Linked DNA regions of Homo sapiens: region 2 is linked to region 1. A link means that fine-mapping ties the variant in region 1 to the expression of a gene that starts in the linked region. Tissue or cell type: whole blood. Region 1 holds a variant in brackets; the other region holds the start of a gene. All regions are shown on one strand. Distances are between the middles of the regions.

Evidence for each region. PIP is the estimated chance that this variant, and not a neighbour inherited with it, causes the effect.
Region 2: it holds the start of RUFY3, and the variant in region 1 is fine-mapped to the expression of RUFY3 in whole blood (TOPMed, PIP above 0.99).

Annotation. Positions count from the first base shown.
Region 1 is chr4:70,684,186-70,692,597 of GRCh38, forward strand. UTP3 (UTP3 small subunit processome component) reads left to right here and starts at 4,347. Exons shown (of 1, transcript NM_020368.3): 1 at 4,347-6,366. The coding sequence starts at 4,493. The coding sequence ends at 5,932. LOC101927297 (a long non-coding RNA gene) reads left to right here. Exons shown (of 4, transcript XR_938860.3): 4 at 2,422-2,631. RefSeq lists enhancers at 3,272-4,242, 3,623-3,712, 4,243-5,211, 4,413-4,472. The variant T/G (reference allele first, on the strand shown) is at 4,344.
Region 2 is chr4:70,718,688-70,727,099 of GRCh38, forward strand. It overlaps RUFY3 (RUN and FYVE domain containing 3), which reads left to right and starts at 3,277. Exons shown (of 18, transcript NM_001037442.4): 1 at 3,277-4,064. The coding sequence starts at 3,887.

The sequences.
Region 1 (8,412 bases):
TTTTGTGTTTAATGTATATTATTTTGTTTGATTATATTCCTACAAAATGTGTATTGTTACATTATTGTGCCTGCATTTTTAATTTTTGTGAATGGTATATTATTTATTACATTCTATTTTTTACTTTTTTCCCTTAGCACATTGTTTTAAAAATCCATTCATGTTGCCATATGGATATATAATCTACTGCTTCCAATTACTATATAGTTAAAATCACTATAAAATGTATCATCTTAGCCAGGCATGGTGGCTCAAGCCTGTAATCCCAGCACTTTGGGAGGACAAGGGGTGGATCACCTGAGGTCAGTAGTTCGAGACCAGCCTGGCCAACATGGTGAAACCCCGTCTCTACTAAAAATACAAAAATCAGCCAGGCGTGGTGGCAGGCACCTGTAATACCAGCTACTCGGGAGGCTGAGGTGGGAGAATTTCTTGACTCTGGGAGGCGGAGGTTGCAGTGAGCTGAGATCGCACCATTGCACTCCAGCCTGGGTGACAACAGTGAAACTCTGTCTCAAAAAAAAAAATTATCATCTTAATCATGAGAGTGAAAGGAGGTGCTATTAATAATTACACTGGGATAACAGGTTAAACAGGGCCATCCAGGGCAAGCCAGAATGTATGATCACCCTATGCTCCTAAATTCCATGCTGTTCTTCCACAACATTTTATTGATCTGCTCTTCCAGTGACGGATATCCAGGTTGTCTCTAACTCGCTGCTACCAAAAATAACTTTTCAAATAGCTTCGCACAGGTCCCCTTATGGATGGGCTTATGTGAGAATTTCTTAACCAAAAAGATATCTGCAATGATTTATAAATTTCTGATACAGGTAATTCTGAACACCCAGAAGATTGGTAAAGTGACAAATGAGAATAAAGCATAGTAGAGTACTTAGCTTAGCATTGAAGGTTTTTGTAGTAATGAAAGGTATGACTGGAAAGGTTGTTTTGGGGTAAAACTTTAGGACAGCCATGTATGCTGTAAATTTTGTTAGTAAACGAAAGTTTTTACTATCTGGATAGTAAATGAAAGTTTCTGAACCAGGATATGCGGTGACAGAAATGATATTCTAGGAAGATATATCTGATGTACCAGATCAAATGTACCAGAGACTAAAAGGAGGAGACCTATTAAAGGAAAAGTTGAAAGCCAGTATAGTATAGTAGTTAGTTATAGCACAACATGGATTCTGAAGCTGGACTGTTCTAGTTTAAATCTAGTTCTAACACTTATTAGCTTTATGACCTCACTTAAGCTATATGCGCCTAATTTTCTCATCTCCAATTACAGATTATTATAGTAACTTTTCACAGGGTTATAATGGTTTCAAGAGCTTGTAATGGTATCTAGCACACAATAACCACTCTCAATGTTAGCTATTATTAATTATAATTGTTTCAATAGTCCAGGAAGAAATAAAGATTAGTTTAAGCTAATGTGATCATACAATACCTCCAACACCCAGAATAAATGCCCTGAAAGAAGTATCCTAATGTATCATCACCTAATGTGTCATTCATAGACTCCCTAATTTCCATAGTAAGAAAATCCCATAAAGGGCTTAGAGTAAGGCAAAAACAATTTTTTTTTAACCTGCTGGCTCTCATTAGTGTAACTTGCTAACTCCTGAGCCAGACATCACAATAAAATAAAGATTCAGATTGGCTGGGTGCGATGGCTCACACCTGCAATCCCAGCACTTTGGGAGGCTGAGGTGGGCAGATCACCTGAGGTCAGGAGTTTGAGACCAGCCTGGCTAACATGGTGAAACCCCATCTCTACTAAAAAAAAAAAAAAAAAAAACACACAAAAAAATTACCCAGGTGTGGTGGCAGGTGCCTGTAATCCCAGCTACGTGGGAGGCTGAGGCAGGAGAATCAATTGTTCTTTATCAAAAGGATCTGAAAAACTGGGTGAAGCGGCACGCACCTTTAGTCCCAGCTACTCAGGAGGCTGAGGCAGGAGATCACTTAAGCCCAGGAGTTCTACCCAGCCTGGGGAACACAGCAGGCACCTGTCTCTAAAAACAAAGGATCTGAGAATGTTAGAATACGATACTCTCTGAATATGCATTGAATACTGCAACTCTGTTCTGGTTAGGAAATTTAACATTTAGTATAAACTAAATAATATTAATGTGATCATTCCCATTTAAAATATCCAAAATATTTTTCTAACTTATATATAATAGTATATGCATTTTAGTCTTGAAGTCTGACACTAAATTCTCAAATAATTTGCAATAAAAATGAAAAATTTTTATTTATGTGCCTAAATGCAACAGTGTTTAAATAATGAAAATTTAACATTTAAAGTAAGGAAATAACTACAATTCCAGCATAGATGTCATATTCTTTAAGCAATATTCCCAAAACAGCAATCTAAAGGTTATCTCTTATCCTTCTGTTCTCTTACAGCACCGGGTTTACATCATACACTGCCTTGTATTCCAGTAATCTGTATGAGTGTCTTCTTTTCTACCTGATTATACAGTCCTTAACTGGCTGATTCATCACTATTGTCTGTAGCATTCTACAACAAACAGTAAGCAGTTAATATCTGCTAAATGACAAAATGTACTAAAATTTACATTAAAAAATAAATTCATGCTTACCATCAGAACATAACTTTTGCCCACAACTTTCTAATTTAATTTTATTTTCTAAAATCTTGTAAAAATTTCAAAATGTTTCGGACACCTTTAGGCACTTGGAAAATGTTTATTTCAAAGTATCACTTTTCTAACATTTTGCATTATTTTTATTAACCTAATGACACTATACTTTCTGAAAAGAAATTGTCACCATTGGCTGGGCGCGGTGACTCACGCCTGTAATCAATCCCAGCACTTTGGGAGGCCGAGGCGGGCGTATCACGAGGTCAGGAGATGGAGACCATCCTGGCCAACATGATGAAACCCCGTCTCTACTAAAAATACAAAAATTAGCTGGGAGTGGTGGCGCGTGCCTGTAATGCCAGCTACTCGGGAGGCTGAGGGAGGAGAATCACTTGAACCAGGGGGTCGGAGGTTGCAGTGGGCCGAGATTGCCACTGCACTCCAGCCTGGCAACAGAGCGAGCCTCCGTCTCAAAAAAAAAAAAAGAAAAAAAGAAAAAGAAAAAAGAAACAAAAAACAAAAGAAAAAGAAATTGTCACCATTAATTTTATTTTATTTATTTATTTATTTATTTTGAGACAGAGTCTCTGTCTGTCGCCCAGGCTAGAGTGCAGTGGTGCGATATCGGCTTACTGCCACCTCCGCCTCCCGGGTTCAAGTGATTCTCCTGCCTCAACCTCCCGAGTAGCTGGGATTACAGGTACCCGCCACCACGCCCCGCTAATTTTTTGTATTTGTAGTAGAGACTGGGTTTCCCCATGTTGGCCAGGCTGGTTTTGCACTCCTGACCTCAAGTGATCCACCCACTTCGGCCTCCCAAAGTGCTTAGGATTATGGGCATGAGCCACCGCGCCCAGCCATGTCACCATTAATTTTAGCAACGTATCAAAAGTTCAGCTTCCAACTACCTACATTAAAAGGTATAATAATACTAACCCTGAACCTTACATATGTAATGCCTAAAAACTTACACCCTGAATTACTCTAACATTACAGGGCAGACTTCCTTGAGAAGAGTCAGACCCTGCAGCGGGGCTCTGCCTTCCCACTGTCAGCCTCGGGGTCATCTAGCTTTATCGATCCCCATGGAGCGGGTCACCGAGCCCTGTGAGCAGGGAGAGGGCGATGGGGATGAGTAAACCCGAGCCGGAGGCCCGGCCTGCGCTCTCGCCCGGAAACCTCCCGTGGGATTCTGGAGTCCAGCGGCGCTGCCTGAGGCTGTGGTACCCAGAAATATGGTATTGGGGGTGGGGGTGAAATGAGAGGAAAGCAATCTGATTAACTTCCAGCCTGATAAGCAGAAAAGAGAAAACAAGGGAGCAGGAAAACTACGCTAGCACTAGACTGCCGGTCGCAAGCGCCGGGTACACACGCAGTTAAACCTCAATGGAACGCCCCCGGGACTTCTCCGGGGCGTAAAGCGCAGCGCCCTCTATTGGCCATCGGGACCTCGCCTGGAGGTGCCGTCAGGATTCCGTCCCCCAGCCACTCCCAGGCACTCGAGAGTAAGCGCATTAGCCCGAGAAAGCGTTCTGTGGAACGGAACTTCCTTATCCTATCGTTTCCACACGGAAAGATTTTAATTCACCGGAATCGACTGGCGTTAAAGGGCACAGTGAAAAGGAAGTTGGTATCAACGTGATCTCGACTAAGGGACCGAGCGGAAGTCCTCAATCGTACGCCACGCGGAGAGCATGCTGGGGGCCGGAAGGAAGAGGAAAT[T/G]CCAGTAGCCGATCAGGAGTCTGCAAACTCCGGTGGTAGGGGAGCGCGCTGCTGTTTAGAGCCACGAGTTACCGGAGCGCCTGATTCCTGCGCCGAAGTCAGTGGTGGCCGAAAGTCCGGAGTCGCTGTAAAACCTGAGATTGTGAGCCATGGTGGGGAGATCCCGGCGGCGCGGAGCAGCTAAGTGGGCAGCTGTGCGAGCCAAGGCAGGTCCCACGCTCACCGACGAAAATGGAGATGATTTAGGATTGCCACCCTCACCAGGGGACACCAGCTACTACCAAGATCAGGTAGATGACTTTCATGAGGCACGATCCCGGGCCGCCTTAGCTAAGGGCTGGAATGAAGTACAGAGTGGAGACGAGGAGGATGGCGAGGAGGAGGAGGAGGAGGTGCTAGCCCTAGATATGGACGATGAGGACGACGAAGATGGAGGGAATGCGGGGGAGGAGGAGGAGGAGGAGAATGCCGATGATGATGGTGGGAGCTCCGTGCAAAGTGAAGCTGAGGCCTCTGTGGATCCCAGTTTGTCGTGGGGTCAGAGGAAAAAACTTTACTATGACACGGACTATGGTTCCAAGTCCCGAGGCCGGCAGAGTCAACAGGAGGCAGAGGAGGAGGAAAGAGAGGAGGAGGAGGAGGCACAGATCATTCAGCGGCGCCTAGCCCAAGCGCTGCAAGAGGATGATTTTGGTGTCGCCTGGGTTGAGGCCTTTGCAAAACCAGTGCCTCAGGTAGATGAGGCTGAGACACGGGTCGTGAAGGATTTGGCTAAAGTTTCAGTGAAAGAGAAGCTGAAAATGTTGCGAAAGGAATCACCAGAACTCTTGGAGCTGATAGAAGACCTGAAAGTCAAGTTGACAGAGGTTAAGGATGAGCTGGAGCCATTGTTAGAGTTGGTGGAACAAGGGATCATTCCACCCGGAAAAGGAAGCCAATACTTGAGGACCAAGTACAACCTCTACTTGAATTATTGCTCGAACATCAGTTTTTATTTGATCCTGAAAGCTAGGAGAGTCCCAGCACATGGACATCCTGTCATAGAAAGGCTTGTTACCTACCGAAATTTGATCAACAAGCTGTCCGTTGTGGATCAGAAGCTGTCCTCAGAAATTCGTCATCTGTTGACACTTAAGGATGATGCTGTAAAGAAAGAACTGATTCCAAAAGCAAAATCCACCAAGCCCAAACCAAAGTCTGTTTCAAAGACTTCTGCTGCTGCCTGTGCTGTTACAGATCTTTCTGATGATTCTGATTTTGATGAAAAAGCAAAACTGAAGTACTATAAAGAAATAGAAGACAGGCAAAAGCTAAAGAGAAAGAAAGAAGAAAATAGCACTGAAGAACAGGCTCTTGAAGATCAAAATGCAAAGAGAGCTATTACCTATCAAATTGCTAAAAATAGGGGACTTACTCCTAGGAGAAAGAAGATTGATCGCAATCCCAGAGTGAAACACAGAGAGAAGTTCAGAAGAGCCAAAATTAGAAGAAGAGGCCAGGTTCGTGAAGTTCGTAAAGAAGAGCAACGTTATAGTGGTGAATTATCTGGCATTCGTGCAGGAGTTAAAAAGAGCATTAAGCTTAAATGAAGTTTTTGCTTAGCATAAGGTTTTTGGCAGTTTTGGATCAATAAATTTTTACTTTTAACTAAAGTCATTGTATTAATATATAATACTTTAAATTTTAAAAATTCTTGTCCACAAGGAAATTTGTCTGGGTTATTGGACAATTTATAAGAACTATGGGAGCAATATGAAGGTGCTTGAGAAAAGAGATGATGTTGAAGTTTTCCAATATTCTGTTGAAGTTTTCCAATATTAAGTATTAGCTTAGGGAAATTTCACAGTTCATTGTGGAGTGTTAAACTTAGAACATGTGTAACTTTTCACATAAAGAGAATGCATCTTTGACAGTTATCTTATTTGTAAGGCAGCCTATAAAATAGTTCTGAAGTATTTTATTTACCTAACTATAATTATTGGGCCAGATACTTGTTAATAAATGGGCTTAATGTTAACATGGATTTCATATGTTCTGTGTGGTTTAAAAGCATAGGAATGAAACTTTGGTTAAAAGCAGAAAAAGGAAAAGATATGCCTTAATTACATCAATTGTCAATATTTTCTCATAGTTCTTCATGTGGCAAATAAGGTAAAAATCCCATTTCCCCTTCTTTACTGGTGATTTGCAGTGGTTGCTGCTTGTACTTGCACTCCATTTGCTAAAACTTTGATATGATTACTACCAGGTAAGTGGTAACTTTAAGTGGCAACAAAGTTCCATTTTTCTTTTTTTTTTTTTTCGAGATTGAAGTCTCACTCTGTAGCCCAGGCTGGAGTGCAGTGGCAGGATCTCTCAGCTCACTGCAACCTCCACCTCCCGGGTTCAAGCGATTCTCCTGCCTCAGCCTCCTGAGTAGCTGGGATTACAGGTGCTTGCCACCACGCCCAGCTAATTTTTGTATTGCTAGTTGAGACAGGGTTTCACCATTTTGGCCAGGCTGGTCTCGACCTCCTGACCTCAAGTGATCTGCCCGCCTCGGCCTCCCAAAGTGCTGGGATTACAAGTGTGAGCCACCACGCCCAGCTCAATGTTCCATTTTTCTTTTCTTTTTTTTTTTTAATTATACTTTAAGTTTTAGGGTACATGTGCCCAACGTGCAGGTTAGCTACATATATATACATGTGCCATGTTGGTGTGCTGCACCCCGTAACTCGTCATTTAACATTAGCCATTTTTCTTTGCTGCTACACTGGTCTTTAAATAGGGGGAAGATGTTGAGGTGGTAAATGTAAAAATAGGATGTTGCCAGGGAAGAAAATGAGAGGACTAGTGAAGGAAACCACAAAAAAAAGTCCTAATTTCCTAATTGTGTCACTGTTTATTCAGTAAACACTGTGCTAGCTGCTAGAGATGCAGAGATGACGCTTGGTTAATATTTATGGAACACTTGCCATGTGCTAGTTGTACATCACCTCATTTAATCTTTACAATAACTTTGCAAGGTGATACTGTGCTCCACAGATGAGGATGCTGAAATTTTGGAAGGTTGACTTTCTAAAGGACATCTGCTTGAAATCTGAACCCAAACCAACTTGAGCATTCATTCTCTTAACCTCTGGCTTACAGCTGCTTCCTCAGAGTAGCACACAGGACAAATTATTTTGTTTCCTTATAAATAAAAGAGGTAGGTTGGAAATAGAAATAACAGTGCTTACTAAGGTAACTTTCCGAGCACTTTGTGCTTATTTCCTTATTTCTCATAACCTTATGTGGTAAATTCTGTTATCCATATTTTGAAAATAAGGAAACTGGCAAAGAGAAGTAACTTTCTCAGGGTCACACAGCTATTAAGTGGCAGAGCCAGGATTTCAACCCAGCCTTTATGGCTTCAGAACCCAATTCTATACTTCCTTTTTTTTTTTTTTTTTGATATAATAGAAAAAATACAGGTTTTGGAGTTAACAGGATGATTTTCAGTTAATCTCTGAGTTTCATTTTCTTCATCTGTATGAGTCTCTGTTATTATACCTACCTCAGAGAAGCCATAAGTCAGTGGTTAAGAACAGACTGTAGTTAGACTGCCGGGTTGGATCTTTTGCAGGGGGTTTGTTTGTTTTTTGTTTTTTGTTTTTTTTTTTGAGACAGAGTCTCAGTCTGTCGCCCAGGCTTGAGTGCAGTGGTGTGATCTCAGCTCACTGCAACCTCAACCTCCTAGGTTCAAGCAATTCTGCCTCTCAGCCTGCGGAGTAGCTGAGACTACAGTCCCAGTCGAACTCCTGGCCTCAAGCGATCCACCCGCTCCTGGCCATTTTTTGGTGTTTTTTTTGTTTGTTTGTTTGTTTGTTTTTGAGATGGAGCCTTTCTCTGTCACCCAGGCTAGAGTGCAGTGGCACAATCTAGGCTCACTGCAACCTCTGCCTCCCAGGTTCAAGTGATTCTCCTACCTCAGCCTCCCGAGTAGCTGGGATTACAGGTGTATACCACCACACCCAGGTAATTTTTGTATTTTTAGTAGAGATGGGGTTTCACTGTGTTGGCCAGACTGGTCTTGAACTCCTGACCTCAG
Region 2 (8,412 bases), 35 kb after region 1:
AAGACCAAAATGTAAAAACGGTACTAAGCAATATCTAAAATCTTTTTTTTTTTTCTTTGAGACGGAGTTTCACAGGCTGGAGTGCAGTGGTGCAATCTCACCTCACTGCAACCCCCGCCTCCCAGGTTCAAGCGATTCTCCTGCCTCAGCCTCCAGAGTAGCAGATTACAGGCATGTGCCACCACGCCCAGCTAATTTTGTATTTTTAGTAAAGATGGCGTTTCTCCATGTTGGTCAGGCTGGTCTTGAACTCCCGACTTCAGGTGACCCGCCTGCCTCAGCCTCCCACAGTACTGGGATGACAGGCATGAGCCACCGTGCCCGGCCGTAGAATTGTTTTTATAAGTTTCTACAAATAGCACTGTTTTCATAGTAACTTCTTTGCCTGTGAACAATGGATAACTGTTCGTGCTGAAGACTCAATGGTGTTTACCTAAAGAACAGCGTAGAAGTACAGTTTTTCTTGCCCACCCCCGGGTCTTATTTCTGAAATGGCTGCCAACACCTCAAACTGGTAGATCTGGGAAATTCAAGGATACCAATACAGGCATGTTTTTCTTTCCTTGCCAAAAACTTTAGTTGTTTTGGGCTTGCCTCTCTGTGTCCTCTACCTGGAGAGAGGCAGGGTGGGATGGATCTTCCGAAGGAATGTTAATCAAGTTTCTTGCTCACTAACCTTGATGTTCCTGTTGTGTTGGTATGTTGCAATCAATCTAGATCTGTTCAAGTTAGTAAATGCTTACTGGGGTGAAGAGATTGTTGTGGTTTGTGACAAGGCCAAATTCAGGTTTTGGACCCCAGACAATCACATGGCATTCGGATTTATTCATGTATTCCTTGTTCTGTTTTAAGAACATATCAGTGATCTAGAGTTTTGATATCACACATACAGATAGCTAGGGCTGTTTGGAGTTGTGGTTCCAGGAATGTCCCATGTAATTTGAAGGTTTTAATGACTACTTACTATGTTTTGAAGTATTGCATGATATAAAGTGAATCTATAAACTGTCCCCTTATTAATATATAATATGGGAATATTTTTGGCTAGAAAGGAATTGAACTGAATTAAATGAGAATGTGTTAAATGAAGGCTTGTGTTCAGTATTTGGATATGAAAATTCTGTTTCCTGGAAAAGGTGTTTCTGTCTTACTGCTGCGTGCCTAGTGCCTGGATCACTACCTGGCATGTGGAGCACCTCTTAGTGAATATCTGTTGAATGAATGAATGAATGAATGGCTCTGAGTCTAGATGTAGGGTAATGATGAGAGAGAATGAGATAGAAATAAAACCAGGAGTATTTTGCTTTCCTTAGTAACTTACTGATTTTCCCCAATTATAAATAAGCCTATATATATGCCTTCTTACATTGTACCAGTATACCCTCCTTCTTTTTTTTATTTTGAGACAGGGTAGAGTGCAGTGGTATGATCTCGGCTCACTGCAGCCTCTGCCTCCTGGCCTCACGTGATTCTTCCACCTCAGTCTCCCAAGTAGCTAGGACCACATGTGCGCGCAACCATACCTTGCTAATTTTTGTTTTTGTAGAGATGGAGTTTTGCCATGTTGCCCAGGCTGGTTTCAAACTCCTGAGCTCAAGCCATTCACCTGCCTCAGCCTCCCAAAGTGCTGGGATTACAGGCACATGCCACCACATCTGACTAATTTTTGTATTTTTAGTAGAGATGAGGTTTCACCATGTTGGCCAGGCTGGTCTCGAACTCCTGACCTCAGGTGATTTGCCCGCCTTGGCCTCCCAAAGTGCTGGTATTATAGGCATGAGCCACCGCGCCCAGCCATCCGCCCTGTCTTCGTAACAATATGAAAATGCCAGTTTCTCTACAGAATTTGATTATTAGCATTTTTTTCTTTCAGTTCAGTCTCAAATTATGATGAAGCATTTGAGATTTTAACAATATTCAAGGAGAATTTTTTTAGTTTTCAGAAATTAGGTAAATCAAGATGTCCCTCTGATAACAATCCCTAGAAAGGAATAGTCTCAGGTCATATTTCTTGAATTTGTATGTTCCTCCTTAAAATTGGAACCCTTCAATACAAAAACAAACAAACACTTTCTTTCAATTGTCCAAAACATTTTCAAAGAAAATTCTTATTCTTCTCTTTGTAATTTATGTAGTTCATAAAGCAAGTACCTGCCCTTTTGCTACCAAGGTATAAATGCCTCATTGGATAATATAGGGCCGTGTGTGTGTGTGTGTGTGTGTGTGTGTGTGTGTGTGTGTGTGTGTATTAAGAAAATATAATTGTCTTCAGTATCTTATCGAATGGGAGGATTTTAAAAATATAACATGGTTTAATCTGCTTAGAAACATATTTCATGCTTAAGGCTGGGCATGGTGGCTCACGCCTGTAATCCCAGCACTTTGGGAGGCTGAGGTGGGAGGATCATGAGGTCAGAAGTTCAAGACCAGCCTGGCCAAGATGGTGAAACCCCGTCTCTACTAAAAATACAAAAATTAGCTGGGCGTGGTGGTGGGTGCCTGTAATCCCAGCTACTCGGGAGGCTGAGGCAGAGAATTGCTTGGACCTGGGAGCTGAGATCACGCCACTGCACTCCAGCCTGGGCTACAGAGCAAGACTCTGTCTCAAAAAAGAAAAAAGAAAAAAAAAGAAACGTATTTTATGCTTAATACAGAAACTTGATAAATACAACAAAATCAAAAAGGGGGGAAATTGCCATTAATTGGGAAAGATTTTACTTTTTTAACTTGAAGTTTTTTTTTTGCATTTCTGCCTAACCTAAAAGGTCAGGTTTTTGTACCTTGGAGAAGGAAATTATAAATGCCCAAGAATAAGATATTTAAATTGAAAATCTACTTTAGCTTTTCTTTTTATCTTTTTGTTTTTTTTCCCTCTGAGAACCTCAATTTTTTATGCTTTAGCTTTTCTTAAAACATAACATTTAGCATAGTAAAGAATTTTAATAGCTATGTAGATAAGAATGAAAGAGGTGAATTATATGCTTGTTAAATTAATCTAACTGCCTCTTTTACCATCTTTACTATAGATTATTATCCGGTATTAATTGTCATCCTTTTATTCAGTCCTTGATCCCAAAGTAAGAAGAATTGATGAGGATATGTGCATTGTGTTATGTCTGATCACAGTTTGACTAGCACAGTCTGGAAGTGGGTTGTACAGGATGAGAGAGAGAAGCCTAATTGCTCTCCCAGCATCAGCAGCATCTATAAAGCATCCTGGGAATTGCTTGCCCTACGTTCAGAGCAGCTGGTCACATGAGCCTGAATTTTCAGTTCAGTTCATTAGTCAGCCATTTTGGTCAACACCCTGCTTACTGCGCACGGCCAATCCTATGAGAACTCAGCATCCCAGCTCATCTGAGCAGATCCTGGAAGTGATTTCTGCAGCTCAGGATTTTTTTTTTAAGCTACATTGAAAATATAGGTTTATTTTTTGTTCAGGTTTTTCTTTTATATTTTTTTTCTGCACAAAGGAGGAGGATTTTTCACTTACTCATATCGAGGCCAGATTTTTAAAGCCAGCTAAGGCAGCATCAGCTGTGCGGGATTTAAAGCCTATAGCTCAGCTGAAAAAAAAGGTGGGGGGCAGGGAAGGGAAGATAAAAGGAGAGGAAGCTGGGAGAAGACAAGCATCATCTTATTTTGCTATGTGGTAGGAACTGTCTATAAGATAGTGTAGAATTGTTTATCTTGAGCAGTTTGTTCTTAACCTATAAGGTATTTTTCCTTTTTTTTTTTTTTAAACCTCCCCCACCCTTTTCCTGAAAGCTTTGTTTCAGAGCTTTGTATTGGGTTTTTTTGGTGAGGAGGTTGTATTTATTTTTTTGGTGTGTGTGTGTGAGTGTGTGTGTGTCTGTGTGTGTGTTGTGGTCCCAGCTGAGTCATCATGTCTGCTCTGACGCCTCCGACCGATATGCCAACCCCCACCACTGACAAGATCACACAGGCTGCCATGGAGACCATCTACCTTTGCAAATTCCGAGTGTCCATGGATGGAGAATGGCTCTGCCTGCGAGAGCTGGATGACATCTCACTTACACCTGACCCAGAGCCTACCCATGAAGGTATGGTCAGATCCTGTCCGCTAGTATTTCACCAGCATCCTCATTGTTATGGGGGAGGGCTGGGAGGATCAGGGAGAGGTAGAAAGAACCTACACTCTCAACTGTTAACAGTCCTGAAAACCTTGCATCCTTACTTACCACCCAGCTCCCCTTCTCTTGCTCATGGGGGAAAGATAATTTTTTTTCTTGCCCCTTTAGGTATCCTTTCAAAAGATGCTGGATACTCGTTTAGAGTTCTTTGTCTTTAAGCCTCTAAATAAAACATTTGAGGTCACTTATCACATCTGATTCTATTCAATAATGAGAAAGCTATTAATTTTGTTCATATATGAAAATGTTATAGAAATTGTAGTGATTTATAACACTAAGTTAAGACAACATGACTATAATTATAGGATTGTACATGATGAATACAGTAGAAACACCAGGGTATTTGGTAATGGTATCCTCACCATTATATGAGGATACAATTTTAAGCAAGTTATGACATCTAGGAAATGTTTGATAAAACATTTTTTTAACAATATGGATTATTAGGTTAGATGAGAAAATAACTTTTCAGCATTTATTTATTGAATATGGACTCCTAAGAAAGCATAATGCCTGGAAAGGTTAAATATGATTAATATGGCATCCCTATAGATTACAATAGAATGGTAATATTGGAATCTATTGGCCATTGCTTTTTATAAATTATTTGTGGTAACTATTATGATCCATTTGAGATTTCCACTGTCAGTACCTCTGAGATCTTTGTGGTCTCTTGACTTGCGACTTTTTTCCAGGACTCTTGCTAATTTATGAGAGGTTTTCTGCTTCTACCCTTTAATTCTCTTAATACCACAGAAAGAGAGCTGATTTGAATCATAGCTACAAATCGTTTTGTTTTTAATACAGTTGCTTCTTAGCTAAGGTTTATTCTCTGTCCTTATACTGATGAAAAAAAACAAAAAACGCTTGCATATGAGGAGAAATTCTTTATAAACATCTGCCTGATAGTTAGGCACATCGACAGGACAAAGAAGACCATAGGTGAATTGTACCTAGCAGATGGGGTTAGGAAAGGTGATTCTCTGCCTTTGACCTTGAGTTGAAATCTTATCATGACTCAGAATTTTCCCATTGTGTTTGATAAGCATTTTATCTTCCCAGTCAGCCTTAGCCTTGAGAAAGTTTTAGGGATGGTTAATAACACAGAACACAAAGCAGTCATTTTGGGTGTGTCTTTAAGAACAATGTTTAAGTGGTTTTTAAGACCCTTTGCATCTTTTAACAATTGGTTTGTTAATTAGACAGCTTTCTTTGGCTGTATGTTTCGTTATGTGCACAAGTTATAAGACATCAGCTGAAATTCCATGCAATGCCAGTACTATTTATTTTTTATTATTATTTTATTCTATATTTTCATCAAAACATCGTTACATCCAACAATTCCAGTACTACTTAAAACAGCCTCCAAAGCTTTAAAAGTCTTTAGGGAAGAAAAATACAGTTTTAGAAGGCTACCAAGAAGTCTTCTGGCAACTGCCTCAGTTTACATATTTTGTTTGAAAAAAATGTATTCCCGTCCAATTTGAGAGTTATACAATATGAAATATTCCCTTTATCATGAAATCTAGTTTACCAGTGTCTCAAAAATAATTTTTAACAATTTTAACACCTCAAATATATGTTTTTGGAGCAGGATTCCTATGGATAAGCAAAAGTGAGCTGTTTGGTTCATGTAAGCGTTTTTAGCAGCGCCATTTGAATTCTTCATAGAGAAATCTGTAGCAACACATTTCTCAGTATGGAAAATGTGTGAGAGCTATAATCTAAGTAATAAATTGTATGTCTGCTGATTAAAGAAATCAGATAAATACAGAGTTTCCAAGACCTGTAATCAACTATAGAGGATTTGGAAGAAAATAGAGAAATGCCGACAGTGCATTTTAGAATTTTGCCTTAAATTGGGCAAGAAAGCTATTATTTTAAATTACTAGAAATGAAAATAAAGAAAGCATAGTCCCATGAAAGCCTGTGAGTATTACTGCCTTGCTCCATTACCAAACTCTGGATATTTAAACAGTCATTTGGTCCCAAGAAATACCCACTTTTATGTTAATACCACTGATAGTTATTAGATTTAATTTAGCTATAAGCATTTAAGTGGTGGTCACCAGGCCCATGATTATGTGAATCTCACCTTGTTCACAAAATGGAACTCCTGATGTCTGGACGCGGGAGTATTCAGACTGCTTTCCGGGCTGATTCACAGAGGGAAAAACATCTGACCACCCAAATCCTAGAGTGAAGTCTCCTCACTCCCACAAAAGAAAATAGGCAAACAGCATAATGTTCCCTCTTAAAATGATGTAGACTGACTGTGTGTACTCAGCAATAGAGGCTCTGTGGCTTCCATATTTTATTTTCTTAAAACCAGAGTTCCTGGCCCTTCACTGAGCAGTCCGCAGTATAGGCCTGGACCTAGAGTTTCTGCCTACTTTAACCCTTAAATAAATGAAAATAAAAGCATTCACTTCATTATCTCAATGCTTATTGGTGGTCAATGAGGGATTATCTCTCTTTTGTCTTATATACTCTTTTTTTTTTTTTTGAGACAGAGTTTTGTTCTTATTGCCCAGGCTGGAGTGCAATGGCGCAATCTTGGCTCACTGAAAACTCTGCCTACCGGGTTCAAGCGATTCTCCTGCCTCAGCCTCCCAAATAGCTGGGATTACAGGCATGCGCCACCACACCCAGCTAATTTTTGTATTTTTAGTAGAGACGGGGTTTTTGCATGTTGATCAGGCTGGTCTCGAACTCCCAACCTCAGGTGATACACCCTCCTTGACCTCCCAAAGTGCTGGGATTACAGGTGTGAGCCACCATGCCCGGCTTATATACTCTTATTTTCAAAAGCCAACAGCAAATCTACAACAAGTTTAATTGCAAATAGATTTCCCCTAAAGGCAAGAGCCTGTGATTGACTCCACAGGAGAAGGGTCAGGAGAGGCTTCATTAAGTGAGACCTTAAGAGATAAACAGGTGATCACCAGACCGACATAGGGAGGGCATTTCAAACAGTACACAGTGAGCTGGCCCAGCCAGGGAATAGCAACAGGAGCACAGAGGGCTTCTGTTTGGCACAACAGGGAGCAAGACTGGAAAGATAAGCAGGGGCTTGACTGTAGAAATCTTATTCATACTGAAAAGCCTGCACTTGATTCTGTAGTGAAAAGCTACTGGTGCTTTATGTCTGGGAGTAACATAAAATAAGATTTGTGTTTGGAATGATCACTCTGGCAACAGTGTAGTGAATGGATCAGAAGGATATAAGCTCTCAGGGACCCCTAACTATAACTTTTAAAATGGTCTGGGTAAGAGATGACAATCTCACATTAAGGTAGCAAGAGTGAACACCAAAGGAACAATCCCTGGAAAAGCAGAATGTACCCGATGACTGAGGGGCTGGGTGGCTGGAGAATGAACATAAGGCAGTGCCTGGGATGACTCTCCAACTTCTGGCTGCAGAAGCTAGGTTCCCTTTACCAGTAGGGAATATAGAAGGAAGAGAACATTTGAGTTGTTGATGCTTAATAGATTGTGACTAACAAAAGCACTACCATCACTCTTTTTTTTCTTTTTTTTGAGACAGTTTCGCTCTTATTGCCCAGGCTGGAGTGCAATGGCGCTATCTCAGTTCACTGCAACCTCCACCTCCCAGGTTCAAGCAATTCTCCTTAACTCAGACTCTCCAGACTCCCCAAGTAGCTGGGATTACAGGCATGCGCCACCACGCCCAGCTAATTTTGTATTTTTAGCAGAGACAGGGTTTCTCCATGTTGGTCAGGCTGGTCTCGAACTCCCGACCTCAGGTGATCGCCCGCCTCAGCTTCCCAGAGTGCTGGGATTACAGGCGTGAGCCACCGTGCCCCGCCCATTACTCTTTCAGTTGAGCCTTCTACCCGCCCCACAGAAGCATTAATCAGATTTATACTTTTCCAGATTACATATCCTGGCTTAAGTCTGTACCCTAATTTACATTAAGAGTTGGAATCCTCACATGGAAAGGCGGGGGTGAAGATAAAAGGAGTGAGACTTAAATGGACATTCAGAGATGTGAGAATGTGGCTTACTTTCTTACTTTGCTTGTGCCATGTCAGTGCTAGAGGAGCAGCCTTGTTTATAGAAAATTCATTTTGCATTTTCTTAATTTAGGGAAACATGTACCACCATTGAAATAACCTCTCAGACTTTTGTTTGTTTGTTTGTTTTACTTTGTGAAAGCGTAGTGGGATTTCTTTCCTTTTTTTTTTTTTTTTTTTTAACCGAAGCAATGTTGGAAGTAAGTGGAATTTCAAAGTAA